Linked DNA regions of Homo sapiens: region 2 is linked to region 1. Evidence: fine-mapped expression QTL. A gene starts in region 1. The other region holds a variant in brackets. All regions are shown on one strand. Distances are between the middles of the regions. Region 1 holds the start of ENDOD1 (endonuclease domain containing 1). Region 2 holds the start of LNCRNA-IUR (lncRNA imatinib upregulated).

What was found. PIP is the estimated chance that this variant, and not a neighbour inherited with it, causes the effect.
Region 2: its variant is fine-mapped to the expression of ENDOD1 in whole blood (INTERVAL, PIP above 0.99).

Annotation. Positions count from the first base shown.
Region 1 is chr11:95,081,987-95,094,875 of GRCh38, reverse strand. It overlaps ENDOD1 (endonuclease domain containing 1), which reads right to left and starts at 5,030. Exons shown (of 2, transcript NM_015036.3): 1 at 4,649-5,030. The coding sequence starts at 4,948. RefSeq lists silencers at 1,657-1,951, 4,779-5,208 and enhancers at 1,657-1,951, 5,219-5,278, 5,349-5,628.
Region 2 is chr11:95,138,539-95,154,301 of GRCh38, reverse strand. It overlaps LNCRNA-IUR (lncRNA imatinib upregulated), which reads right to left and starts at 3,763. Exons shown (of 3, transcript NR_110303.1): 1 at 2,554-3,763. It also overlaps the pseudogene BUD13P1. RefSeq lists a silencer at 2,534-2,643, enhancers at 3,164-3,293, 2,894-3,435, 3,436-3,977 and a cis regulatory region at 6,363-6,993. The variant C/A (reference allele first, on the strand shown) is at 7,341.

The DNA.
Region 1 (12,889 bases):
AAATGGGGCTGGAAGTCACATAGCTTGTAAATGGAAGAGCAGGGATCTGAATTAAGTCTCTTAATTAAGGAGTAAGAATCAGGATTGTCCTGTTCACTGCATTCCTTACACAGAGATTTAAGTGTATGATGCTCTATATATCTGTTCTCTGACACAATGAAAAGAAGGCTGAGGTTGGAACAAATTGAACAGTATTTCTGTTTCAGGTTGTATAAGCCATGGATGGAAATTAAAAATCAAGGACTTAATCAAGGTTCTAACTTGAAACAACCATTTGCATTTACTAAGATCTGAAGTAAGACCTCACTGTGCCCTCCAGGAAAATGTTTTTGCAGTTAACCAGAATATCCCCTTCATTCCAGAGTAAAGTGACACTTGAGCAACCTTTATGCAGCCAAGTAAGTGCTCCCACTTGTCCTATGACTGTCAGAAAATAGAAGTGGAGTAGAAATTAGAATTCTCACATAAAAGATGAAAATTAGAGTCCTAAGACCATTAGCGCAGTGGATCCATTGTGAGATCAAAGAATCTCCACAGTGTATCAGAAGAGTAATCAGTAATGAGTTCAAAAATAAGCTGTGTGACCCTAAAACACCTCAGTTAACCTCCCTTAGCCAGTTTCCTCCTTTCTACAATGAAGATAATATCTACCTCACAGTATTTTTTAAGATTGAACAAATATACACTATTGTTACTGAATATATAAATTATATATTATATAATTAATATGTATAATATATTAATTATATAATTTATATATTCAGTTCCTTCCATGTTTATAAAATGATAGAGCTTTATATGTTGGCTTCTGGCATAAATCAGCAATGCACTTTAGAAAGGTATCATTGGCATCTTATCTAAAAATTCTTCCATTAAGTGGAAAGGAGTCAACAAACTAAAAGGTTTGAGGCTTCCTGCACTAAACCAGAATCCAGTTCTCAGGTTTCTGGAGTCTTGACTAGAACTCCTCCAAACCATCTCCTGTAGGCAGAGCAGAGATCAAAATCATTTGGGATAGTTTCAAAGGCCAAAGCTAAGACTGATGGAGTGGCTGCAGAGCAGGGTTCCAGCTCTGCATAGGGAGCATGTTTGTAACAGTTGCTGCTGGCCAGCCCTGGTGCAAGCTTCTGAAACAGGAAGCGCCCCACTGAGAAAACTGAAGCAGAACATCTCACCTGCTCCTGCCTGATTGATCCTCCCAACATCAAATTATTTTATTCAACACTTATCGCGTGCTTTCTATAAGCTGGGCACTAGGAAAAGAATGAGTAAGATGCAATCATCATTCCTCAAGGGCTCAAGTTGGGGAGACAGATACATAAGCAGATAATTACAAAACAACATGGTAAGTATGAAAATAGAAAAACTATAAGAGCACTGAAGGGGTGAACCTAACTTGGGAGGTGGATACAGTTCAGGTGGGGAATTCTTTCTGGAGGAGGTGACACCTCAGCAGAGTCTTAAAGGATGGAGTAAGGGCAGGAAGTGAAGGATAAGATGGGGTCTGTGTAGAAAGGGAATTTGGGCAAAGGGAATCAGCATGAGCTAAGAAACAGACATCACAAACAGTCTGGTTTATGAGAGGAACTCCAGGCAGCTGGATAATGCTAGAACATAAAATATGAGGGTGGAGCATGGTGAGAAACTAGATTGGAGCTGGAGACAGGAGCTAGGCTATGGAGAGCCTGTAAACTGCATTCTGCAGTGTGAACTTTGTCCTGTAGGGGCTGGGCAGGCAACACTTTACAGATTTTCAGCACAAGAGTGACTAAGTTTCTGTGATCTTTGACTTAGGAGATTCTTTTCAAAGGGAAACTGCAGTGTGGACTCAAAAGCTGCCGAACTGGGCTTTGGGAATTCAGTGTCACTGCTGCCCTGCCTGACTCATCACTGGAGGCAAGCACTGAGTTCCTTTGGTCTCCTGCCTCTTCCTCCCCTGTGTGCGGGTCCTCTTGGTAACACTGACCTCATAAAAAGGTGATGTGGGTACAAGGAGACTCAGCATTATAAAATGCTTGGAAGCCGCCAAGGGTACACATTGAGCCCTGAGCATCTTTCTGCAGTGGGGATCTTGGCTGGGAGGCAGGGCCTCAGGGAGCAGGCAACAGTGGGGGCAGGTTTGCTGCAGTGCACTCCAGGCCCAGCTGCACCTCACACCTCCTCCTCCCTCCCTCTCTCCCAATACTCTCTGGATCCTGGCTGACTTGACTTGAGGTCGAGCGGGTGGATGTGGGAGGCCAGCCACCTTGCAGGGAAAAGCATCCTGCAGTGCTCAGCCACAGTGACCATTCTGACCTCTCAGCACAGCAGGAACTCAGGCCCCTTGTACTCTTCAGAACCGCTGTACATCTTACCTCTCAAGCTGCCATTTGTAACTATTTCCACCCTCCCTTCCCATCTTCTTTAATCTCCACAGTCCCCTTCCTCATTATCTCACCCAGGGTCTCCATGTTACCTGGTTCCCTGTACTTCTTTCTGTCAAACTATGCTCCTTTACGACTCACTCCTTCCCTAGCTGCATAAATGGCTCTGCCTCCCTAAGCCTTCCTTGGTGGCTCCTCCCCACCTGATCCCTCCCTTCCATGATTCCTTTTTATTCTGAGCAATTGAGTGCATTCATCTATTTGTATTAGTTTACCTGTTCCAACTTCTTCACGCACAAATCCCTGAATCTGCCATGCCTTTCTCACTCATGATGTTTGTTCCCTCTGCTTGAAATGTCCTCCTCCTTGCCTCCCTTCTAAACTCTGCCTTATCTTTCCACACACAGCAGAAATGTCATCCTGACCCTAAGGCTTGCTTCCATCACCTCAAAGACAGATTAAATCTAATAGGACTTTGTTCACCTTTATTAAATTATGGTTTTTTGCTTAGGTCATAGCAACAGCTAGTACTTAGTACTCATGTGTCACACACCTGAGAACTTTATATATGGTAACTCATTAAATCTTCACACCACCCTATGCTATTATCTCCAATTTAACCTGCCCAAGTTCATAGCTAGTCAGTGGAGCAACTAGGATATGAACCCACATAGCATGGCTCTAATCAGATACTACACCACCTCTCCACCCAGCAAACTCCACCTGCAGATCAGGTAGCCTTTGTTCCAGAACTGCACTCAGATCTCTTGGTCCCAAATATCTGGCACACAGCAGGAGTCACTAAATGTGTTCTGAATTTAACTGAAATTTGTTTAGCATCCATTCCCATGATTTCCTCAGACGTATGTTCTGTCTCCCCAAGCTGTCCATGAGATCAAGGGGAAAGAACTAGCTCATTTGTTTTCTTCGCAGGCACACAATCACAATGCAAGATGAGAGGTGGGGAACACCCTGTGAGCTCTAGGGGTGCAGCTGGTGGAAAACTAATTTTGGATTTAAATGTGTCTTGTGTGTGCAACTGACAACGTCTTTTTCACATGCCTGATCTCGACAAGTGTTATCAACAGTTGAGGTAGGTGGAAGGATGTGAGGAAGATAAGAAAACTAGGTGCAGATTGTTTGAGACCTGGCCAAGACCTCAGAGCTAGAAATATCTGAATGAGATTACAACCCACAGGCTCTGAATAAAGCACCTGAAAGCCAGCCTCCTGTCCACTGGTGTGGTCCTGGGCAGCTGTGGCCGTCAGGAAAGGGAGAGCGTTGGGTCAGTTCTTCCCCCAGCAGCCTGGGCAGGGGTGGGAGGCTGGTGAGAGGGCAAAGGGGAGTCTGGCAGGGTGTTCTAGAGAGGAGGCCAACTGAGGAGAGGTATTAAGAGCAGGCCAGCAGGTTCGGAAGACTCTGAGGGCTTCTCAAGTGTTTGGTCACCTTTACCAGACGGGACAGAACACCATGAGAGGTGACACGATTTCCTAGTGGTATGATAATATAGATATGAGGAGTCAGGAAAAACTGGCTTATCTTTCCATCAGTTGGAGGTAGTCAATGTTTCCCTATCATTTTTAACTACCCCATTGCGTTTCTAAAAATCTGTATCTTTATTTCATTGTTCTAATTCAACACAACCGCAGATCGAATTTACTCAACGCCGTGGTAGAGGAAGGATTTTCAGGCTAGGATGAGCTCTGCAGAAGAGAAGCTTTACTTAGTAGAAAAGGCAGTGAATTTCTAGACAGAGACCTGCCCCATCTTACTAACTGGGTAGTCTTCCATATGTCTCTTCACCCCCTGGGTTTATCTCCTCTTCTGTAAAATGGGGATGAAAATGCCCACCTACCCACCTCCAAATGAGTGCTATGGCAATAAGTTGCACGAAGGCCTGTGAGCGCCCAGCCTAGGCTTTCTGCGGATCTGAACGGTCTCCAGGGTCTCTGTATCAAGCTCTTCACCATTCAGGAATGAAACACTGCGGATGTCTGCTCAGAAATGCAGGGAGAACCTCCTCCCACAGGGGACCTCCCGCCCTGCAGCTCATGAAGTGAAGGCTCGCAGATCGCCAGGCTCTTATTGTAGCTCGACAGGGGCGAGGCAGGCTAACTCCGGGGACGCAACAGGGTGGACCTGGAACCCGGGTTTCTTGGCCCAAGGCACCGAAGGCGTAGGGATTGCTGTTCCCGGCCCGCCCCTCGCGGTAGCTGCAACTGGGGGCATGTCCAGCGGCACGGTCTCCGGCGCCCGCAGCCCGGCTCGGGAACCACTTCGCTTACCTGCGGCTCCACCAGCCATCGCTGCTCGGCGCCGCCGGGCGCAGGGCGCGGGGCGCGGAACGCGGAGTACACGGGGATGCGGTCCCGGGTGCTGTAGAGGGTGGCGAAGCGCTCAGCACCCTCCGCGCGCTGACAGATCTTCACGTGGGAATCGGCCGCCAGCCCCGCAGGCGGGGTCCCGGCGTAGAAGAACTTGTCACATTCGCCAAAGCCGGCTTCCTCCTCGCCCACGAGCCGGCCTTCCAGCAGCCCAGCCAGGGCGAAGAGGCTGCCCAGCGCGAGCCAGCGCGCGGTGCCCATGGCGGCCTCTGCGAGCGCGGCGGGGCCGAGCGGCTGGGCTGCCGCGGCGCGAGCTCTGCAGGCTGGGCGGGGAGCGCACTACGCAGCCGAGCAGGGTAGGGAAGGGAAGTCGCAACCTAGGCGCGGCGCTCTGCGGAGCCGGGCGGGGCGGCCCGGGCGGCGGGGGCGGGTCCGCGTCGGGAGGCCGCGCCTCCCTCCCTGAAGATGGCTGCAGAGGCCCAGGGCCGCGCTCCGCGATGCTGACAACGTACCCTGGGCTGCGCCCGGGACTGGAGACGCGGGTCACCTGCCTCCGCGCCGCCTGGTCTCAGCAGTCCGGGGGACGCGCGCTACCAAGAGTGGAGAATCCGAGTGGGGCGGGCCTAGTCCCGGGGCTGGGAAGAGATAGTCGCATGGACTGGGCGCCAAGAAGCCTGCTGATCGCGCGCGCCCCACGGCCGCCCTGGTGATGCAGAGGGGTGGCGTGAGATGCTCGTGGAGCTGCGGCTGGTTCGGAGTGGATGGGCAGAGTTCCCCTCTGAAATTTCATGAAGATGCGTCTCCCACTCTCCACCGAAGTACTCAACGACCAGCACACGCATACAATTTTGATGGAGTTTTTTGTTTTTTGTTATGTTTTTTTAGCTCACCAGAAACTCAGAGAGTAAAGAAATACTGTTAAAGGAAGTTCCTAAACTAGGCAGACAGTATAACCCTGTGTGGTTTTCTTGGTGCAAGTGTTAGAAACAAAACCGATACCAAGCAAGGAAGGAGGCCAGCCAACGTCATTGGTCAACAGGTTGGCCAATTCTTTCCTTCATTTATCCCTCTGAATGCCTAGGTGCCAGCCTGAGATAGGCACTGGATTACCACAGGGGTAAACAAGAGCAGGGCTCCTGCGGTCACAAAGACAGCCTAGTGGGAAAGTTTGTCATTAACCGAGGAAACATGCTATTAAAGGGATAACTAAAAACTGAACACAGATCTGTGAGACCCTGACAGCTACAGGGGTTCAGGATGTAATCCGGGAAGGTTTGCCTGAAGAAGTGGCATCTGAGCTGAGACCTGGAGGATGACATTAACTAGGCAAGGAGGAAAACCATGTGCTAAGTGGTCTCCCACAGAAGGGAACATGATGTATTGGAGGAATTTAAGGAAGGCTAGTGTGGGTAAAGCGCGGAGAACCGCGTGGGGGATGATGGGAAGTGGGGCTAAAGGAGGAGGCAGGGGTCATATTACTCAGGTTATTATAGGCCAGAGGCCTTCAAACACTTTTTGAGAAGGCCCATAATGAGAAAAGTTTGATGAAATAATTCTTATGCTTATGATTGGCATTGCAATTTCATATTTCTGTTCTACTTCACTTTTTTAAAAAAGTGCTGGTGTTGACCCACTAAATTGTTTCTATGAGCCACTAATGGCTCATGACCTGCAGTTTGGAAAAAATATTGTAAATCATGTTGAGGATTTTCATCTTTTAAAGGTGGTGACTCGATTCTTTTTGCTATCAGGGAAGAGACTGGTAGATTGAAGTGGCACAGAATAAATGGGTGGCTCACACCTGTAACCCCAGCACTTTGGGAGGCTGAGGCAGGCGGATCACCTGAGGTCGGGAGTTTGAGACCAGCCTGGCCAACTTGGTGAAACCCGTCTCTACTAAAAACACAAAAAAATTAGCTGGGTGTGGTGGCGGGCACCTGTAATCCCAGCTGCTTGGGAGGCTGAGGCAGGAGAATCGCTTGAACCCAGGAGGCGGAGGTTGCAGTGAGCCAAAATTGTGCCACTGCATTCCAGCCTGGGCAACAGAGCCAGACTTTGTCTCAAAAAAGAAAAGGAAAAGAAAAGAAAAACACCCCATAATTGCCACAATCCAGATAAGAGATGGTAGCTTGGACCAGGATGGTAGGATGGTGGCAGCAGAGATAGGGTCAAGGCAGCTACCCAGGGCCAGGGCCTGTGCTCATCTTACGATGTCATCTGTTTCCCCAGTGTGCCACTACAGGGACTGAGACCAGAGCCTGTTGATTCTGGCCTAAGCTGGCACAGCCAGTGAGTCCTAAGACAGATTTGAAACAGGTCTCTCTGCTTCCCAAGCCTGGCCTTTTCTTTTAACTCACAGCGCATCTGTAAGGTGAGCCCATAAAGAAGGAAGCTCTTCAAGAGATTATACATTGGAACTTAAGAACAAATTTCTTACAGGTTTTAATTCCGGAAAATGTTGACTATGTTTGGTCCCAGAAATGAAACCAAAGTTTGTATCTTAGTTTTTTTAAAAAAAGGAGGGGACACATTTAGTGTGATGTCACAGAAGAGGCTAGACTTGAAGTCCCCTTTGATCTGGATGATGACCCTGATCATCTGGTACTAGTATCTCAGTCATCTCATCCTTGTAGGCTTCAATCAAGTCCTCCCACAGGGACAATGCTGCTCCTGGGATGCTGGGAGGATTATAGGTTTTACAGGATTTTAAAAATATTTACATTATTTTATAAGGTTGAATATAGGGTTCCCCAATGTTGACTTATGATGTCTACCATAAAGATATATAAACACAGTTGAACAACTAGAAATCCATCCCTCTCTTCTCTGAGTTCTTTAAACATTTATCTGTTATGATACTTATCATGGTAGAGTGTTAATAGTCCCTGTATCTGTCTTCTTTATTAAATCATGTGCTCCTAGGGACAAAGGTGGTTGGTGGATCCCAGTGGCTACCACAAAATCTGGAGTGATTAGATGCCAAATATGATTATGTTGTATTTTAACAAATGCAGAAAGTATAATACAATCATCATTGGCCTTTATGACTAAAGTATTTATAAGACTTTAATTCACTTTCTCAAAATTTCTTGATGCCTGCCCGCCACCTCTGATAAGCATAAATATCTCTGCCACTCAGTCCCTGTGGCAGACTTTAGTTTTTTCCCCAGCCCTCTATCAGTGACTGACACACATATAACACTGAACATTTGTACATCCCACAGCCAGGATGATTTTGTTTATTTTCTTTAGTTTATAGTACAAGACAATAGATTTTTCTTCCATGTGCTTGCCTTCCACAGATAAAATATTACTTTTGCAAATTACAAATGTTCTCACCCCAAGATTCTGGAACAACCTACAAGGTAGGAATGCCTTGATCTAATTAAAACATTTGCTAACTGCTGATTTTAGGGGAAAACTGTCTTTAGCAGCATCTGTATGTGTAAAACATGTAGGTCCATCAATAATTCACTGCTGTCTCTACATTTGGTCACTGACTCTCTTCTCACAGGGAAAGAGGTTTCAAACCAGATCCTCTTAGGTCTCTGCACTCAGACCCAGCCAAAGCTGGGTTCCATAGCCTTCAGCAAAGGCTTGAGGATGAAAAGTAATGGTTGATGTGGAATAAAACATTTGACATGCACTTCTGTGGCTTGGTTGGTTCTGTCCAAAGTTATTTAAAAATATGAGCCCAACTAGACACTTCTTTCCCCTGCCTCACTGCTCTGATGATAATTGCATCTCTACCATCACACCTTTGACCAAGCCATCCTCATTTGTCATGCCCAGTTTTTATCCCGTCATCCCTTCTAATCCACTCTCCAGCTGGGATGACTTCCTAACATAAATCTGATGATGTCACCCTACCCTTACAGCACTTAATCACTCTCCATTTACCTTGGGATGCAGCCTGACATACTAGCTGACTTCCATGACCCCAGAGACCTGGCCTTTCCCTCTCAGGCCTCATCTCTCTCCACTCCCACCTTGCCCACACGCTCAGCTTCTTATATTTCCATGAATGCACAGTGTTCTCTCTTTTGTTTTGTTTTTGAGACAGGGTCTCTCTGTCACCCAGGCTGGAGTGCAATGGTGCAGTCACAACTCACTGCAGCCTCAATGTCATGGGTTCAATTGATCATCTCACCTCACCCTCCTTAGTAGCTGCAGCTACAAGCGTGTGCCACCACATCAGCTAATTTTTGTATTGTTTGTAAAGACAGGGTTTTGCTATATTGCCCAGGCTGGTCTGGAACTCCTGAGCTCAAGCGATCCATCTGCCTTGGCCTTCCAAAGTGCTGGGATTACAGATTTGAGCCACTGAACTCAGCCTGATGCTCTCTCTAGTCTTTGAAACTTTGCATCATAAACTACTTCCCTTGTCCTGGAATTCTCACCACCCATTCTCATCCCTTCACTCATTTCATCTAGCTTTTTTTTTTTTCCCAATAGTCTAGCTGACCATCACTTCCTCAATCACTCACCTTCCTGACAAGCATGTCCTCAACTTTACTCCCTCCTCCCCTCTATGAGGTTAAGAGCCCCTTCTAATTATGCCTATTAAGCCAGTAACCCCGTTTCGTAACTGCTACCTTTCCCCTTAGTCATGAACATAGTGCCTACTATAGAGTAAGCATCTAATACAGTGAGTGAGTAGATGAATGAAAGAAACTTTCTTTATGAAACTTCATTTGGGTCTTCATTGCTCTAATTCATTCATTCATCCTCAGAATGTTTTTTGAACATCTACCATGAGCCAGCAATGGCACTAGATGCTGGGTATTTAAGGGAAGCAAAGTTTAGCCTAGTTCCTGCTCTCCTGGCACTCAGGCCAGCACCTCTCAGTGTCATGTGGGCAACCAGAAGAGAAAACACAAGCTAGCTAATTATTTGCAAGTGGCTTTGCCCTAGACTAGGGCAGAGCAAAGCAGAGAAATCTTCATGCAGCTAGTGAGTTCTGTAACATTGAGTTCATGCTATACCCATCTTCATTACAGTGCAAGACTGACACAGACCTTGGCATCACAGAACTTGAAGTATGGTACGGAGGACAGACAGACAAGCAATTACAATACAGCATGAGAAATGCTCTGATAAGGGAAGTACTGTGTGTTGTGTTGCAGAGAAGTATAATTTAGGCGGAGAAGCTCTGGAAAGACAATGGGAATGGTGGAAAATCATACTTAATTATGAGATATGTTGAAACATCATTCACAAACTAGAATAACAATTAATTTCTAGACCCCTAGAGCTACTTCTTTGGCTCTCCTCTCTTGTCTCTCTAGCACATATAAGGAATTGCCAAATGATTAGGAAGCTAATACAGTTTGGATTACCAGGAGAGGTGAGGAAGCTGAGGAGTAGTTCCTATTGGGGTTAGAATGCCTGATTTTTTTTTCTAACAATGACCAAATCAAAGAGAGCCTGCCTGGCTGAACCCATGTGTGGGTGGCAGACAGTGTTTTACTGAGTCAAGAGAGTTGCTGATGCATAAGCAGCAGGAGGTTGAGTCATGTTTACCTGAAATGTGGGCAGAGCTGTCTTCTTTCTAGTAAAGCTAAATGTGGATGATGTTTAAAAATAATAGCAGTTGTTGTTTAATGGGTATAGAAATTGAAATTTGCAAGATGAAAAAGTTCTTGAGATCTTTTTCACAACAATGTGAATATACTTAACATTTAAAAAATGGTTAGGATGATTAGTTTGATGTTTTGGGTCTTTTACCACATTAAATAGAAAAAACTAATATCAGACTTCACATCAATATGGATGTGGATAGAGGAGAAACTTATTCCTTCATTCAGCAAATACCGAGTGGACCCCACAGGCCAGGCTCAGTGCAGATTGCTGGGGCCACAGAGGGTATAAAACATGGTCTCAGCCATCCTGGAACCCACAATCTCAGCTTACCACCAGGTCATCTCTATTTTCAACACAGAACTTTATACATTTATTTCAGAAATACACCTGCCTAAGTAACAATTTCATTGTAATTACTTATGAGTTAAAACAATTGCTATTTATTTTAATTGGTAGAAAAAAATAGGGAAAACATTTAGTCCCATCTCTAAGTCTGTATGTGTCTGTCTTAGTTGACATGTAACAGCATCAGGGAATTATAAAAGACTCCCAAACAAAAAGACAGACAAATGGAAAAACCACAGGTCTTGGCATCAGGAGGTTTTGGTTTAAATTTGAGCTCGGCCACTTACAAGCTATTTGAGCTCTCTGAGCCTCAAATTCCTCATCTGTAAAATGGGAATAGTAATACCTATTTTGTATTATTGACATGAGAATTAAATGAGATAACCAATATGAAGCATCTAACCTATAGCAAAACTCAATAAATGCTAGTCCTTTCTTTCATCTCTATAAGTAGATGGGCAGAGTTTCACTTAGAGAAAACAGAATTATGAAAATCTGGAACTTACAAGACAAGTATTTTAGGGCTCTGGTTTATAATTTCAGAAAGAGTAAATTCAGTTTATAAACTGGTTAGCTTCAGGATGCAACCTGACAATTCAATTCCAAATCAAGATAGGACCTCTGAAGCACAGAACCTTTCCAGTACAACTCCCTAAGACCAAAATACCCTTGATCCATTGACTTTGATTAAGTCTCAGGCAGTTTTCCAATGCAATAGCAGTGGGATCATTGTGGGCAGAGGAACACTCCTTAAGAAAATGCCTATGTGTAGGAGGCGACAAAGAGAGATAGACACATTCTCTTTCGTGGTTTGCAATGTTAACTTCCATAAGGTTCAGGCAACTAAGTAAAATTAGAAAAAAAAAGCACATTGGTAGATATTAAGAAACACCTTCCCTTGTAGAGGTGAGATGACAGTATTCTGAAGATGAAGCAGGAGGGGAGCAGAAAATCCTAGTGGTTCATGCTTAGTTAGACCCAGGAGGTTCTTGGTTTGTAACCATGGAGGTTTACGATTTGTCTAAAAAGGCTTTATTAAGAAAAATGAAAAGGAGCAGAAGGAACCGTCTATGTCCATTGACATATCTATTGAATTCTTAGGCTTGCTACCTGGTTCCCCTGGGTCCAAATTTTGGCCACCAGCAGTGACTAGATGACTTGTCATTTTCACCATAGACCTGAATATTATTGCTTGTGACCCCTTGAAGATGCCTCTTCCTGGTGCTTCCTTCCACCTCCCACCAACAGCTCCGCCTACGTTTCCAATGGCATCTAGATGGTGGACTCAGTTTCTGGGCCTTTTGCAGGCCCGTCCCCCTCACCTTGCCCAGTGCAGAGTGAGCCCTTGTCCCTTGCAGCAAGTTTTGTTATTAAAGTCACTGGGCATTTGAGGCCTTTGTCTTTGGATTATTAATCTGCTCTGCATGTACCCAGGACCCAACAATGAGGGCATCTGTTGCAAATCTAATATTAGCAACAAACTCACGTCACATCATCTTGTATAAAGAGAATATTGAGGGAGAAACATTTGATCACTAGCAGAGACATGGAAGCATTGAACAAGGAGCTCTGTCAAATGCTTGGCTCTCTATTATTCAGGGGAGGGAGGAGAGGAGGGGAGGGAGAAGACTGAAGAGTGTAAGCCTTTCTTTCTTCCCATGTGTTCAGCTCTCCCAGGGCAATATGACATACTCTGCACAACTCCTACAATATTTGACCCCAGGTCAGACATAGAGGTCCACTGCGACCCCAGGACACACAGAGGACTTGGATGGTGCCATTAGAAACAGCCACTTATGGGCCTGGGCATAGGAGGGCATTCCTTTGGCAGAGGATCTGCCTGACTAACAAGCCCAGAACAAGTCACCTGAATTAAAAACTTTGGACACATGACTCAGAAGACCCCAGGTGTTTTACCTTTTCTACCAGTGCCAGAAGTAGAGTGAGATTATTTAAGTTAGTCTCCATGGCTTGGGGCAACTTCCCAACCCAAATGGGTCATTTAGAAAGCAGGGAATGTTTCAGAGGTCAGTGGGCCAGCAGGTCAATTTGGCCAGTAGCGCTTGTAAGTTTTTTGAATTAGCTGCCAACATTGAAAAACCTAAAGATTTTAAAATAAAATTCCAAGTTCAAAGCTTCTCTTGAATATTCAAAAAATGGCAGCCACATGGCCCTCATCCCCACATAACAACAGTCACCCCCACTGTCCAAGTCCTTGGCCTTATGATGAGGCAGGAGCCATTGTCCTGACAGCAACACTCACTTAGATAACTT
Region 2 (15,763 bases), 58 kb before region 1:
ATTTGATATCCATAAATTTGCTTTGATAGTGATTGTAAATGGGTCATTCATTTATGTATTCACGAAGCAAACAGCATGTTGGATAAAAAGACATGAAAATATAAGAACCTGAGAGAAAAATCACAATATTACAGGGGCATCAGTCAAACCCACAGGAAATTGTCAGTTTGTTTTGATAGACCTATAAACAAAGTGTCACATGATCTAAGTCATGCCTCTTGTCTGGTGCAAGCAGGGAAAGCTTCACAACAGAGGTGACATATTAATTGGACTTGGAAAACCACATAGGAGTTCACCAGGGTTTGGAAGAACACATAGGAGTTCATAAGGCAGAGAGGAAGGGAAAGGACTTTCCAGAAAGGGGAAGCAATAAGCCAAAATGTTTTGACCTGCAGGTTGTTCCCAAGGAGTGACTGAACTCTTGTATCCTGCAGCAAGCAGGCTTGGTAGGAGAGAAACGTTAAGGAGAGAGGAATGTTGCCAATGTCAAGGGAAGGAGTGGTGAGGCTTGGCCCTGGCAGGAGTCTAGTAGGGGGATGAAGAAGAGGAGCTATCAGGCTGCAAAAAGAACATTGAATCAGGATGGGCAGGTCTGCTTCATGGCCCAGACTCTTCCAACCACTCACTATGGGACCTTGGCTAAGTTAACCACCCTCTCTATGCTTCAGTTTCCTCATGTGCAAGTGAAGATAATAACCCCCACCTCGCTGTGTTGTTGCCAGATAACACATGCAAAATCATTAACACAGTGCCTGCCGCAGATGTGCTCAAACAGGTCAGCCACTGGTGTTACCATTAGATATGCAGCTTCAGGGACTTATTTTGTCTCACCAATCCTACTTTCCTCGTCAATAAAGTGAGAACGAGAGTGTCTGCCTTGCATGCATCAGAAACTGTGAAGATACAATCAAGTAATACAAGCTGTACAGAATGAGATAATGAAGCCTACATTTTAAAATATAGCAGGCATCTACCAATCATAACGCAGTTTCACTTTCATTACGACGTTTAACTTTTTCTGACAACAACCTTATGAGGTAGGATTATAATGATGTTTATTTTACATGTGATGAAAGTTGGGTTCCTTCATTTAATAGATGCTCCTTGAGCAGGTTCTGTGAACAAGACAAGACCATGGGAATTGTAGTTGAGAAGAGGAAACAGACTGCAGGTACATGCTGGGGGAACCGGGGCTCAGGGCTTCGCCCTGCTATGTCTCTACTCACTCTCTGATGATCTCTCCAAGGGACTGATGGGGCTTTCAGTCCCATGCCTGTATCATGGCAACCCATATTTCTATCTCCAGCCCAGCCCTCTCCAGACCTGTGTGTCTGCCCAATCAATCTCTCCACTTGTTTTTCTAATGAACACCTCAAACCTAAAATATATAACATTAAGCTGTCTTATCCCTCTACCCCAGCATCTTCCAATCTCAGCCAGCAGCATCTCCGTTTTTCCAGCTGCTTGGAGTCATCCCTGATTCCTGTCTTTTTCTCATACCCAAAAAAACAATCAGACAGAAAATCTTATATATATGTAAATCTTCGCCCCGGTTGGAGTGCAATGGCGCAATCTCGGCTCACTGAAACCTCTGCCTCCTGGGTTCACGCTATTCTCTTGCCTCAGCCTCCCGAGTAGGTGGGATTAAGGGTGCACACCATCACACCCAGCTAATGTTTTGTATTTTTATTGATTGATTGATTGACTGAGACAGAGTCTCGCTCTGTCGCCCAGGCTGGAGTGCCGTGGCGCCATCTCGGCTCACTGCAAGCTCTGCCTCCCAGGTTCACACCATTCTCCTGCCACAGCCTCCCGAGTAGCTGGGACTACGGGCACCTGCCACCACTCCCTGCTAATTTTTTTTTTTTTTTTTTTTTAGTAGAGACGGGGTTTCACCGTGTTAGCCAGGATGGTCTCGATCTCCTGACCTCTTGATCCGCTCACCTTGGCCTCCCAAAGTGCTGGGATTACAGGCGTGAGCCACCGCGCCCGGCCTTTTATCCTACTTTCAAAAAACATACCCAGAGTCTGAGTGTTTCTCCTTACCTCCAGCGCCACTCCATGGCCCGAGCTCTGTTTCACCTGGTTCTCACCTGGATCGCGGCCTCCAATTTGCGCAGTGACCCCTACAGTCTATTCTCCAAACAGCAGCTGGCGTGGTCATTATGAAAAGCAATGTCCACCTGCTGCTCAAAAACCCACGAATGGCTCCCCATTTCTTTCCCATTAAAGCCAAAGTCTAAAACATTTACAAAGCGTTATATGATCAGTTCCTACCTGCTTTCCTTATGTTGGAGGCTGTGAAGCTCCTTAATATATAAACAGTTCTCAGGAGAAGGAATAAAAGCACAGCCACCTCCTCAGCAGAGCCAGTTTACACTCTGCTAGAGACAAGAGGAGCTGGGACCTTCTCCCCTAACCCTTACTGCATATGTGAGAGAAGCCAGACCTGCTGGATCGACTGGAAATGCCCAGTGCCTGAGACGGGGAGGAAAGAGAAGCCGTGGGGAGGAAAAGACTGTAAACCTAAAAGGCATTGAAGTCCCACCTCACCAGTTAGGCAGGGAGGAGAAAGAGGCCTAGGGCGCTCGGGAACTTGGAATAAGGTTGCCCTCTGCGGGTGAAACTGTGAAATATCTCACAGTGGAGGAGGGCGGAGACTGTTCGCAGAGGGGCCCGGCGAAAACGTCACCCTACTGGAGGTACGAACGCATCGCAGACTGGGGGCGCCCGAGCGCATCCCAGACGCGAGGGCAAAGGCCCAGGAGGACTGTGGGGCTCTCGGAAGTATCCGATCACCTTGCGAGGAGTCCGCCGGCTGTCCGAGCCTGATGTCACTGCAACTTCGATTCCTCCGACGCCCCTACTCTTACTTCCCAGTCTTCAGGCAACTTCTCCGCTTCGGCCTCCCCTAGGCCTTGGCCCCAGAGAGGGGACGCACTCCACAGGTGGATTCGCACGTGTGGGCCCTCGGCAGCACTTTCTCGTGCAAATTAACAGGTGGCCCTCATTGTGGAAGCACCGCCCAGCCTTTCCCGGGGAGGTCACCAGGGCGAGGCCGCTCAAGGTCTGCAGGCGCCCGGCGTTAGCGGGATCCTCCCCGCGCACTGGTCCGAGGAGGCCAGGAGAGGGCGAACCAGTCCCCGACCAGCGGCCCTTCCGGGGGTGGGCTCTGACCCCACCGAGCGGTTAGAGGGTCCAGGAGCTCCAAAGGGTAGGGCAGAATTGGGTAGATGAGGGTGCATTTTTCTGGGAGGAGTCTAAGGCGTCGCTGACTCTCAAAGGCCCGCATCCGGAGAAAGGGAAAGAGCCCCGTCCCGGGAGGAAGGACGAGAGGCTGGCCCGCGGGAAGGAGCCCTGGCAGTCCCTCCTGGCCTAGGTCTACCTCTTTGATCTCACCGTCCCCGTGGCGGCGAGTGCCACCAAAGATGAGAGAGGCCAGCAGGTATCGGGAGAGAGCTGAGGGGTCGGCGCCGGCGGGACCCCAGATTGGAGCCGCCGTCGTCGGACGGGCAGACCCTGCTGTAATAGCTCCCGGCCGGCCACGGTAGGCAGGTGGGGCCCACCGCGAGTCCTAGTGAAAAACACCTTCCTCTTGATTCTCTCAAAGGAACCCGAGCCCTGGGAAGGGACATCAAGGCGCTCCCGAGACTCCGGAGACGGCCAACAGCCCCAAAAGAGAGTACTCGGCTATCCAGCCGCCCTTATCCAAGCGGAGAATCTCTCTCCACCTCCGCCCTCCCGGGACTCAAAGTTGTTTGTGGAGCCTCCAGGTTTCCTTGTAGATGGGCACGATATGCACTGTGTGCGCGCGCGCGCACACACACACACACACACACACACACACACACACACACGTATATGTATTTTTCCAGTGGCCACTGCAGGATTGCCAGCTTTCGGAAATGAGCATCCGCTCTCTCTCTCGGGACTGGGCGTGGGGTTCACCGAAAGGAGAGGAAGAGACCTTGCGTTTGCGCTGGGCCTGCTCGATGCCAGGCCATTCTAGGCTTCTGTCTATCCTGGTTTCTGGTCTGTGCGTTGTGGGTAGCAGCATTGGCGTATTACGCCGGAGGGAGCAGGCTGAGCGAGGCTCCAGAAGGTGCGCAATAGCCGGAGAGGAAAGGGCGATGCTGTCACCTAGCCCCCTCCCTGAGACTCCATTCAGCCCAGAAAAAGGAGCTGCTTTCTCCCCCATCTACCCTAGGAGAAAATAAACGGTCGCTGGCATTTTCCTGCGTCTTTTAATTTTGCCAGAACTGTTTTGGGTTGGCTATTGTGGGCCAGGATGGAGGCCTTCTCCTCCCGGGAGCAAACCTGCCCACGCCCAGGCCGGCAGTGGAGTCAGCCTTGCCCCAGCCTGCCCTCCAGGGAAACAATGCCCCTTTGTCCCTCGCCCTCCCGGGGCTGATACAGCCCCTCCCCTTAGCTTAGGGCTCCCTCCCGTTAGAGCATTCCAATGATTGCCACAAGTCACACTTTTCTTTGAGGTCTCTGCCTGGGAAGAAAACAAAGCAGCCCTCCTAATCACACGGAGGGAGTGGAACTTTTCCTGCCCTCTGACTATGTGCCAGCCTTGGCTCCTCCCTGAAGCCCTGTCTAGAGGGCTTATTAGGTCACTTATGTTTTGTACCTCGTGTGAAGTCCCACAATCAGTAGATTATAGAGGGGAGCACAAACCCAGCAGTGTCTGACATAGAGAAATTACACATACATACATACACACATACATACATACATACACACACACACATACACACATACATATACATACATACATACATACATACACACACATACATACACACATACATACACACATACACATACATACATACATACATATATACATACATATATATAGTCTTTCCACCACCCAGGATTGAAAATTAATGCTGTTTTTGACATTGTCCGTTATCCACCCAAACCCTCCAAAAAGGCTGGCTGGCATTTGCTTGGCTCTAGTTCTACCTGCCCACCTTCTCCTTTGCCTAATCCTGAGTTTTCCCCTTCCCCACGTGTGTTCCCCTTGAGCACTTTTTTGCTAACTTCCTGCATGCTACTGTCATCTCAGAGACTGATTCCTGGGGAGCCCAACCTGTAACATGGAGCTCAGTGGAAAGCACATGGAATGTGGACTGAGACATGACTGTGTTCAAACCCTGGCTCTGTCGCTAAGTGGTTACTTGGTTTGGGGCAAGGCATTTAATCCCTCTAAAGTTCACTTTCATCTGGGGGGAAAAGATAACTGTGAGGATTAAGTGAGTTTATATATAGTGTATGAGTGCCTGGACCACTGAAGCAGTGCAGCAGATGTTAGCTCCTCCTTCAGTAATATTTATTGAACATGGCATCCCAAGTGTTACTAGAATTTATATTTCTACTTTATAAATTTTACTAGAATTTATGTTTTCATATTCTTGATACTAATACTGCATTTTTGAAAGGGGTGACTCCTTCCTTATTAAAGTTTTAGAACACTATCCTAAGTGAAGTACAATGGTTACTAAATTAGATGACATCTGGATCTGGCTGATCTTGAACAAGCAGGTTAATCATATAACTTAGCTAGGTCATTGTGAAATTTTCTCCTGTGTAGAAAGAGATATTAATAGTAACTACTGTGGCAGATGGCATTTTCCATAAATGCCTACAAAATACTTTCCATCTCAGCTGCTCTTCAGAAATGACCTTGCCATTCCTCCATCAACAGATGAAATCTAATTCCCCTTCTTTTGCATCTGGGCTGGCCTCAGGGACTTACTTGGGCATTGGAATGTGGCAAAAGTGATGGTCTGGGACTTCCAAGGCTAGTTCATACAAGCTAAGTCATTCTGTGTGAGTCTTTTGGGATGTTCCCTCTTCCAACCCAGCCACCATACTGTGAGAAGCCTGAACACTTGGAAAGCCATGTGTAGGTGCTCTGGCTAACAGTCCCAGCCAACAGCAAGCATCAACTGCCCACCGAGTGAGCTCTCCTGACATCCAGCACCTTTGGGCCTTCTGAAGACTGCAGCACCAGCCCACATCTGGGACCCCAAAAAGAATGGGAATAAACTGAGCCCAGTTAGTATACAAACCAAGACAGATAATAATAAATGGTTGTTTTAAGCCATTAAGTTATGGAGTGGTTTGTTATGCAGCAATAGAAACTAAATCACTAGCTCCTAGGGTTATGTGAAATCAAGGAAGACAATGCATGCAAACTGATTACTAATGTGCTTCGTAAATAATTAATACGGTTGCAGAAAAAAGTAAGCTGATTATATGGGGAGATAAAACATGGGCACAAATAACTGCAAAACTAAGCAGGCATCATCTGAATCAATATTTAGTGGGCACCTATCCCATGCCAGACTGTCTACATAATCATAGAATCTCCAAGTAGAACAGAATTTGGGAGCTATTCTAGTTCAACCTCCCACTTAGTGAGGACATTTCTTCTTGAATGCTTGTTTAATACAACTATTATTTATTAAGCCTCGCTCCGCACCAGAAAGTGTGGTAGATGGTAATGTCAGGAAGTGGGATAGAAAGATAACTAAGACACAGCCCAGGGCCAGAGGCAAACACATGAAGAGTTTCTGCTCAGTGTCATATGTGCAGGGAGAGAGGATACGAAGAAGACAGATGCATTTCCCCTGCATGGAATGGGGTGAGTCATCTCACTATCGGCCAGCTCTGCTGATTCAGCTTCCTGGTGCTCTGGATTCTGCTGATATATTTTCTGTGCATCAACTTGTATTCTGAGTGGCAGTTCTCCAGCTCTTTGCCTTCTTGCTCCATATACCTAAGTTGGCTGTTTACACATCCACTTACCCATCTTTGCTCAAAGCTGACCCTTGTCAAGGAAGGAGGGGTTTGCCTGGATCTTGAACACCAGCCTGTGGGCTCTTTAAGGCCAATGCCTGGATCTTGTTCATCATTGAGGCCCCAGCTCCTAGAGGCACCAAAATAAAACAAAACAAAAGAGAGAGAGAGAAGAAGAAGAAAACAGCCACCAAAAAAATGCATTTCTTTTTGTGTGGGTTCAGAAAAATGCCAGAGATTCATTTAATTCAAATTTATTTCACACAACTACATCAGGGAAAATTAGCAGTGTAATCTGCTTTCTCAAGTTTCATGAGCAACGCTAAGTTTTTAATAGGCTGAGTGTTTAATAGGCAAGTAAAATCAGCCAACAAACAAACAAACAAAAAAACGCTGGAGTTCGAGTCCTTTACAGCCAAGTAGTTGGCAGCTGCTACGGTTATTAGCTATCATAGTTTCCCACATGCAGCCATGTTTTATGGCTTCTTAAAATTGTTTTTAAAAATGTTTCACAAACCATGGGTTTCACA[C/A]AAATATAAGGGTTAGAATTTCAATTTTAAAAAATAAACATAAGTTTGGTGTCACATCAGAGAAAGCTCTAGTTTTCTCCTTTTAAGAAACAGAGGAGGTAACTCACCAGAGCAGAGGAGTCATCTGAATTGGGCCCTTTATTCTCAGCCTAACCTGCTGAGGAGCGTCATCTACAACTCACAAGGTACTGGGAGCAGGAGAATTTGCATGGATAGACAAAAGTTTGCTTCATTGCTCAGTTTCCCTTTAATCATTTCTCCTCTTTATTCTCCTCTTTCTTATTTGAAACTTATTCCTTGTTTGTATTAATGTTTCTCTGCAGGGCTGTAACTGTAGTTTATTACAAAACAGTAGAGTACAGGGCTCTTTCATTTAGCAGCTTAGTATAGTTTTTGTTGCAACAGTGTATTCATATCATGGGGTGGGGGGTAGAATCTATTTAATCAACTCTGGGGACAGTACAGGCCCCTATACAAAATCACCAAAACTTCCCTATGGAGAAAAAGATGGGAAATTAGAAGAAAAAATAAAGCTTGAGGGGGAAAAGGGTAGAGCTTTTCATTTGGAAAAAGAGGAGGAATGGGGAGTTGAGAATCAGTGTGTACTCTTGGGTCACTGGGTGCAACCTAAGAGGCTGGGGTGAATCCAGAAGCTGCTGGACCCCTGGGACCTGGGGGCAAATTGCAATGGTTGGTGGGTGAACTTCTGGGCCTGGATATGAAAATCAGCAATGAAAGGCAAACACTAGAAATTGGTAGTAGACCCCGGAAGTTGGTGGTGGATTCCTGGTGCCAGGATTAGAACCAGAGAGCTGCAGACACAACAGAGTAAGAGTAGCTCAGGGCTCTGAGGGTGTAGGACCACATGTGAGGGTGGCGGCAAAAATGTAAGGCAGTGATGGCCAAGGAGGAAAACTATTTCTCAGTAGGAGTGGAGCCTCTTCATGCCAGGAGGTCTGGTGGTGGTGCCACCCTCTTGAAGTGGAAGTGGAGAGAAACTGTTCCAGTGTGTTTGAAACTTGCCTGGTCAGCTTCTCTGCTCAACACCCTGAAGGTGATGGTCTTGTGAGACTCATTGCATGTCAACGGTACTTTTGGCACCTGTCCAGGAACTTTTAATACTGTCTCTAAGCAGAAATGAAGCAATGGCAGGGCATGATGCCCCTGTCAACCTCTAAACAGTCAATCTGGAAGAGGAGGAGGCTCTGCCATTCGCCTCCAAATTTCTCTGCTTAGTCATTTTATAGCCCAAAGAGATTCTTCTTCATCTCCATCTTGTCCGGCATTGGCTGGGATGTATTCCTTTTGGCTTATCTTTGACCAATTTTGTTTGCTTTTTTCCTTGAGTATGTGTTACGTAACTCACCTTCTTGCTATAAACTTGCATTTTTTGAACCCAAGTTATTGCTCATAAAATGTGGGATCTTGTTGATGTCAGTGGTCTTTACAGCCAACTGCCAGAGATGCTGTCTGAGCTGCTGATTGCTGTCTAAGGAAGAGAACACTCCCCAGTTCTGGTCTTGCCTCTACCCGCTTATTAATGCTAGAAGTACAAATTAAGGGGCTTTGCACTTTTTCTAATAAATATGGATATGTTCAGCTACAGAAAGAAAAGTAAAATAGAGAAAAACTCTAAGCAGAATAAACTCTAGATGTCCTCAGGGTACTGAAAAACCAGTGTTTCCTCTATATTAGAATAGCTGAGAAGTTCATGGTGCCCCTAATTAGAATTTCCAGCCCCAAATCCTCCTAGGACCAAAGTTGGTGCCCAACAAGTTGCTGCTGATCTGGGTAAGCCCTGATTGTTAGTCAAGATAGATGTAGCAGCTGAAGGTCCATCCCCCATGCTCATACGTTCAGTCACAACAGTGACTGTCTTCTTGCTTGCACGCCTGCAAATTGCCTTGGGTCAAACACACTGGATCTGTTCTCTCCATCCTTGCGGTGTCCCAGCCAGATATTGAATCCGTTGGAAGGAGGTGCCAGACCACTGCAGTGAGTCCTCACTTTCTTATCTCTGATCTCCTTAGGCTAATTCTTCTCAATCAATTTGGCCATGGGATTCCTCTCTCCTGTCCTCTGAGCATTCAGTGCAAGTGTTCATCCACACAGCCATCCAGGGGCTTCGGCACCTCCATACTCTATTGTTCTGGCTGGCTCTGTGCCAGCCCCTTTCCCCACTGGGGGGACTCCTCATCTTCTCTGCATTTCTCCTTTGGTCTAAATAATCCAGTTTAAAGTTACTAAAATATGGCTTTGGCATTTGGAATTCAACTTCAAACTCTGTGGTTTCTTTGGCTCACCTAAGCTCCTAAGGTTTTCACTGCATGTCAGTTTGGGCCCAGGAAAGCAAGTACTTAGCCTTATCTGCAGGAACTTGACCCATCTGGAGCAGGGTCAGATTGGAATCAGAAGAGCTGCTCCCCCGTCTCCAGAATCAGAGCTCCTTGGCCAAGGTCTATTCCACAGAGAGACGGATCTGAGTCAGAGGACTTCCTGTACCCACTCTGGTGGTAAGGAGATCCAGAGTGTGACTTCTAGACAAAGAGCTTATCTGAAGTTTGCTATGGCTGGGGAAAGAGGCTTGGAAGGCATGCTACTTCTTACTTTCAGAATGGGATTTTGTTTGCTTTTTTTTCATGGTGGAGAGAGGTCTGAATTGTATTTCTATTTGCTGCTTTTTGGAACAAATGAGAGGTTCCTGGCTCTTCCAATGTGGAAAAGACTTGCTGGAGGCTCTTTTTCATATCTTGCTCATTTTTATTCTGGGTAGAAAGTGATAGATATTGGAAGCCAACCTGGAAAATCATGGAAGGTCCTGCTGGATGGAGATGTCTCTGCTGGAGAGTTAAGATAGGTCTTCCTGAGGGAGGGAGGGGGGAATAGATCTGGGAAGTCATGATTATTTCTCCAGCAAGAGATGCACCTGGAGAGTGCCGATGTGCTCTCCTACTTTGCACTGCTTCTAAGGAGTCAATAGCCCTCCTAGACTGATGGGTCTGGAGGTTCATAGTGGATGCTCTTCAGGGCAGACAGGTCTGAGTAGTTTTGCTGATCACTCCTAGGATGCGAAGGATCTTGGAAATCATGACAGCATTCCTAGGGAGAGATGAATCCATGGAGTCATGGCAAGAATGCCTGTGGAAGGACAGGCCTTCCTTCTTGCTTCCATGTCCTTGGTCCAAAAGGGCTCCGTCTGTGTCCCCACCCATCTCATATCCACAGGAAAATTTCCATCATCATCTTCTTCATTTTCCAGTTTAGTGGTGAAGACAGATCATACCATGGTCCACGCACATGATGGTCCACAACCTCCATCCTCCTGCCACTGGCCCTGCCATGCTTGCTACTGAATCTGAAGCACTCATCAGTACCAGTGACAAGTGACATGTCAGAAGTGTGATGACTGAGAGTGGCAGAGTAGCTACTAGAGCAACAGCATGTCAGGCTCTGTGACTTAGTGGGGCAGGGAGGAGAAACCACATTAACAGGTGCACCCTGTTTCTCAGGTCCCAGATCAGCGCTCTGAGGAAAACATAGCAGGGAGAGGTCCACTCAGGGCCTCACAACTTTGGGAAACTCCTTATTCAGGTCCTAAGGGGATTCGTCTATTTTTTGCAAGCAATTCATGTAATGGAATTAAGCTTAGTCATGTCCACAGTGTTTATGCCCATCCAGCTAAGCCTGACTCGATCTGGGGAAATGCCCAAGCAGTTGATGATGCTACTCACTCAAGGGAAAGGGTATTCGTGTGATGAAGATTAAAAATAAAATAGTTTTCAGGGGTAAGGCCTGCTAAAACACAATCTAGACAGAGCCCGAGAGCTTCTTCACTGATCAGTTCCATTTTCATTATATTCAAAACGCCATCTCCCTCAGTGGTGATGGACGTAGTTTCCCACTATTTAATAGTTGATTTTTTCTGTGCTCTTCTCACATGATCAACCTGAGCCAAGCAAGGAAAATTGCTTTTCCTCTTCCTTGTGAAGAAAGCAATGTCATGTCCTTACATAATGTTAGCATTTGGAGACAACATCTACACAGCATCTAATTTCTCAAAGTGAGTAACTTTACGAGTCTTCTATAAATGTACTGCAGAGAGATGTGTGTTGGTGATTAGATCACCTCCCCTGTCTTCTTTGTCCAACCCACGGCTTGGAGTTGGAGCCCTGAGTGGAGCTGTGTGGAACTCTTCTCCAAGGAATAATACAGCTCAAGGGGCTGTGGGATGTGAGCACTTTTGACAGTATCAGAAATCTGCAGCTGGACATCACAGCCTGCCTCCACAGCCTGCCAGTAGAGTTAGGAAGGAGGGTGGTGACTGCCAACAACACCAATGGCATCATAGCAGCTATTACAGAAGCATTTTTCCTATATCCTCTCCCTTCTCACCACACAATGCAGTAGCTGGTACTAAATGAATCATTCTCCAGGGCCACATTGCTCTGGGAATGTAGAAGAAAAGAAGCTAGAAGGCAAGGACACTTGAAAGACTGATCAAACAGAGGGACAACTTGATCACGAGTTCCTCAAGGATGGGTTCCTCATCTGACTCAATCTCATCTCCACTGACCAACGTACTGGAAGATCAATGGATGGTTTCTGGGAAGTTGGTTAAACAGACCGAGGATGACGGGAGCAAAGAGAGCTGCAGGAGGCAGTTCAGGCTGCCAGTAGACCCAGAGTCCTTGATCCTTCTCAAAGGAACATTGGACATTAACCAGGATCAGCCTGAGCAAGAGAGAGTGCAGGTTTCCTGTCTGTACCATTTTGCTGTCAAACTGGCAGGGCTATGAGACTCCCTGGGCATGCCCCTTAGAGGGGATCCAGCTCCAGCAGCTTGTGATCAGCATTGCTCGATCTTTGTTTTCCTGAAAGAGACTCTCCACAGTCCTATGAAATCAAACCTCTCAAATGGGGGCTGGAATTACTCAGGGAAGCCAGGAGTTGAGCACTGAAATGGTATTTCAGGCCAGGGAGTGCAACAGATAAGACACCCCCATTCTACAACCTCACCTCTAGTCAGAGTGGCTGAATGCATTTATAAATCTGAATTCTTTCTTAAAGATAAGTTTTTTTGTAGCAACTTCGCATTTTCCCTTCTCAAAATGAGAACTCATATTTTGAAACCCTTTGCCCATGAAATTATTTTTCTGACAATAAAAATACATATAAAGAAAGGATGTCACATGGGAAAGATTGCATTCCTAATCTGCCTTTCTATAAACTCATTCTCTTCAAAAAGATAAACTGTGACTTTATATAACAACAACACAATGGTGAAAGCATTCTTCTTAGGCATTTTTGTGAGCTCTATGTATATATTAAGGACATTAGTTCTTTGTCTACCATATTATTTGCTTATCAGTCTTCTAACCTCCCCAGCCACAGTATGTAGGCATTTGGTACAAGCACTGTAGTAGCAGGTACATGACTATGTTTTTGGTCTACTCTTTGTGCCTAATATACAGGCTGGTGGGCATGAAGGTTCAACAAATGAATATTAACCACAAACTCTACAAGGCAGATCACCCTAGGTTCTGCAACCTACCTGATAACCCTACTCTTATTTCACTAGGTTTGTTTTTAGAAGCTAAGGAAAAACATCTGCATGGAAAACTCAATCATAAACACCCTCTGTCATATTCAGATAGCACAGAAAATTCTAGAACAAAGCACCTGTCTCCTAGCAGAGCTTTGCCTGCTTTGAGATTGAGAATACCTGCAAAAAGCACCTAAGTCATTTATTAAAATACTGAGCTGAGAGTCATTCCCTTGTAGGAGAAGGCTCATTTGGTTATTGCTGTGGGTTCTGGAGCAGGACTTTGGTATGTCAAGACCCAAGTCCAGTTACTGGCTGTGTGACTCTGGACAAGGTAGTTAACCTCTCTAAGCCTCAGTGCCCTCCTCTGTAAGCTCAGAAAAAAATAGATGTACAATTTATTACAGTGTCTAGACCTAAGTGTACAATTCTTTGTAGATATCCTTATCATCATGATTATGATATTACTCAAGTCATGGAAACAGCAAGTCCAGTTTCTGGAGACTGCAATGATGTCATTCCTCACACCCACTCAGACTCCAGGAGGCTCATCCAGTTTCCCACCAAGTGAGTCTATGCCTTTACTGCTCCCTTCTATAAAACACTAGGATAATCATGGTACATAATAATGCCTTTGTGTTTATAGGGCATGATCACATTCATTTTCTCATTTGATCCCCACAATAACCCTGTTATGGTAAACAAGGAAGATTATGTTATCTCTATTTTAGAAGTGAGGAAATAAAGGGAAAACGAGCTTAAGTGACTAGCTTAACTTACTAAGAAGTGGAGTAGAATTTGTAACAAGATCTTTCTCGCTGTGTCTCAGGGTGGAGTAGAAAGACCATTTACCAAAAGGGGCAGCCCCCTATTGGTCAAGTTTTGCTGCCATCACTGGGACCACCAGAGTGGGGAGCATTTCTCCTCCACATTTCAGGATTCGGGATCTGCAGTTTGCTGCCTTTAAGCAGCTGATGTCAGTGTCTTATCCTGCCCAAGGTATACCGACAGGTGTTATTAGGAGATGTCTGCCTGGAGCAAGTCACACTATTTCTACACATACACACTGACATCTTTATATAGTTTACATATCATTGACATGCTCACCAGAGGAAGCTTTGAAGGGAAAATGGAGTCTCAAGAGGGCATTAAGCCAGCTGGAGTAGATGGATAGATGGCAGGGATGGAGGGGGCTCATGCTCTGTGAAAGGCCAAGTAGCTCCATCTTCTAGAGGCCAGGTCTGAGCCTTGAACACTGAGGTGATTGACTGGAGCACTTTGCATGCATGAGCAGCAGCTCTTGTGTGGGTGATCCCCTTTTGCTCTAGTTAAAAAGTGCGGGAGGTTTCTCCCAAACTACCTGGCCCAGGGCAGTTATAATGATCTAAAATCACAGAACCAACCCTGGCTGTACAATAGAATCATAGGTGATGTTTTTAATATTTACAGATGCCAAGGCCCCACCTAAACCAATTAAATCAGAATCTTTGTGACTGAGAGCTAGGCATCAGTATTGTTGTTTACAGTTGTATTGAGGTATAATTGATATACAATAAACTGCACATATTTAACAATCAATTTGATGCACAGTGACATAAATATACATCCTGACTCTTCACTATAATCAAGATAATGAACATATACAATATCTCATAAAGTTTCCTCATGCCCTTTGTAATCTTTCCCCTACTTCCCCATCCCATCACCAAGAAAACAGATCTGCTTTTTGTCACTATAGATTAATTTACATTTCTAGAATTTTTTACAAATGGAATCATATCATATGTTGTCTTTCGTCTGGCTTCTTTAACTCAGCATAATTTTTTTGAGATTTACCCATGTGGTTATATATGTCAGTTCCTTTTTATTGGTAAATAGCATTCATTTATGGTTATACCATAGTTTATTCAACTGATGCTGGACATTTGGTTTTTTTTTTCCCGGTTGTGGACTGTTACAAATAAAGTTGCTCCGAACATGCACATTGCATGGTATGTCTTTGTATTGATGTATGTTGTCTTTTCTCTTGGATCAATACCTAGGAGTGGAAAGCCTGAATCATATGGTGGACGTAAGTTTATCATTTTAAGATACTTCTAAACAGCTTTCCAAAGTGGTTGTGCCACTTTACATTTCCACTAATATTAAATGAGAGCTCCGTTGCTGCACATCCTCGCCATCCTTGCATGGGTCTACTTTATACTATATAGTGAGTACAGTTGATCTCATTGTGATTTTAAGTTGAATTTCTGTAATGACTAATGGGGTTGAGCATCTTTTCATGTACTTTTTGCTATTTGTATATCTTCTTTATTGAAGCTTATTTTAAAACCACTAGAGATGGGACCCTAACATTAGTTAAAAAAATCAATAAAACCTCCCCGGCAATTCTAACGTGCAATCAGGATTAAGCATCATTGTCTCACTAGAAAACTGAGTGCAAACCTCTCATTTTAATCACACGGAAACTGGGAGATTAAGGTTATTTGTATAGCAAGAAAAATTTCAAGACAGTAAAATCACTCCTAAAATAGTTGTGGACATTACAGAGCGAGTTCTCCACTGCAGACCTAACTATATTATTTGCATAAGTCAGACAAGTTTTACTATTGTCTCTGGTAAGACTTAGTGATATAATTAACTGAATTATTTGTTCCAATCTGATCATTTATCATTTTACTTAGTCACGAGTACTTGTTCTACAATAAATTTTGAAGGAAGTGCATTATTTCAACTAACTTTGTGACAGTATTATGACTATGGTGAAATGGAAGGGAAAATAGCCTCAGGGCTTCCACATATAGTATTGACTACACAACCCTAGAGGGCTCCCTTCACATAGCAGATATGAAACCTCTGCATAACTTACAACCGTGTGCAG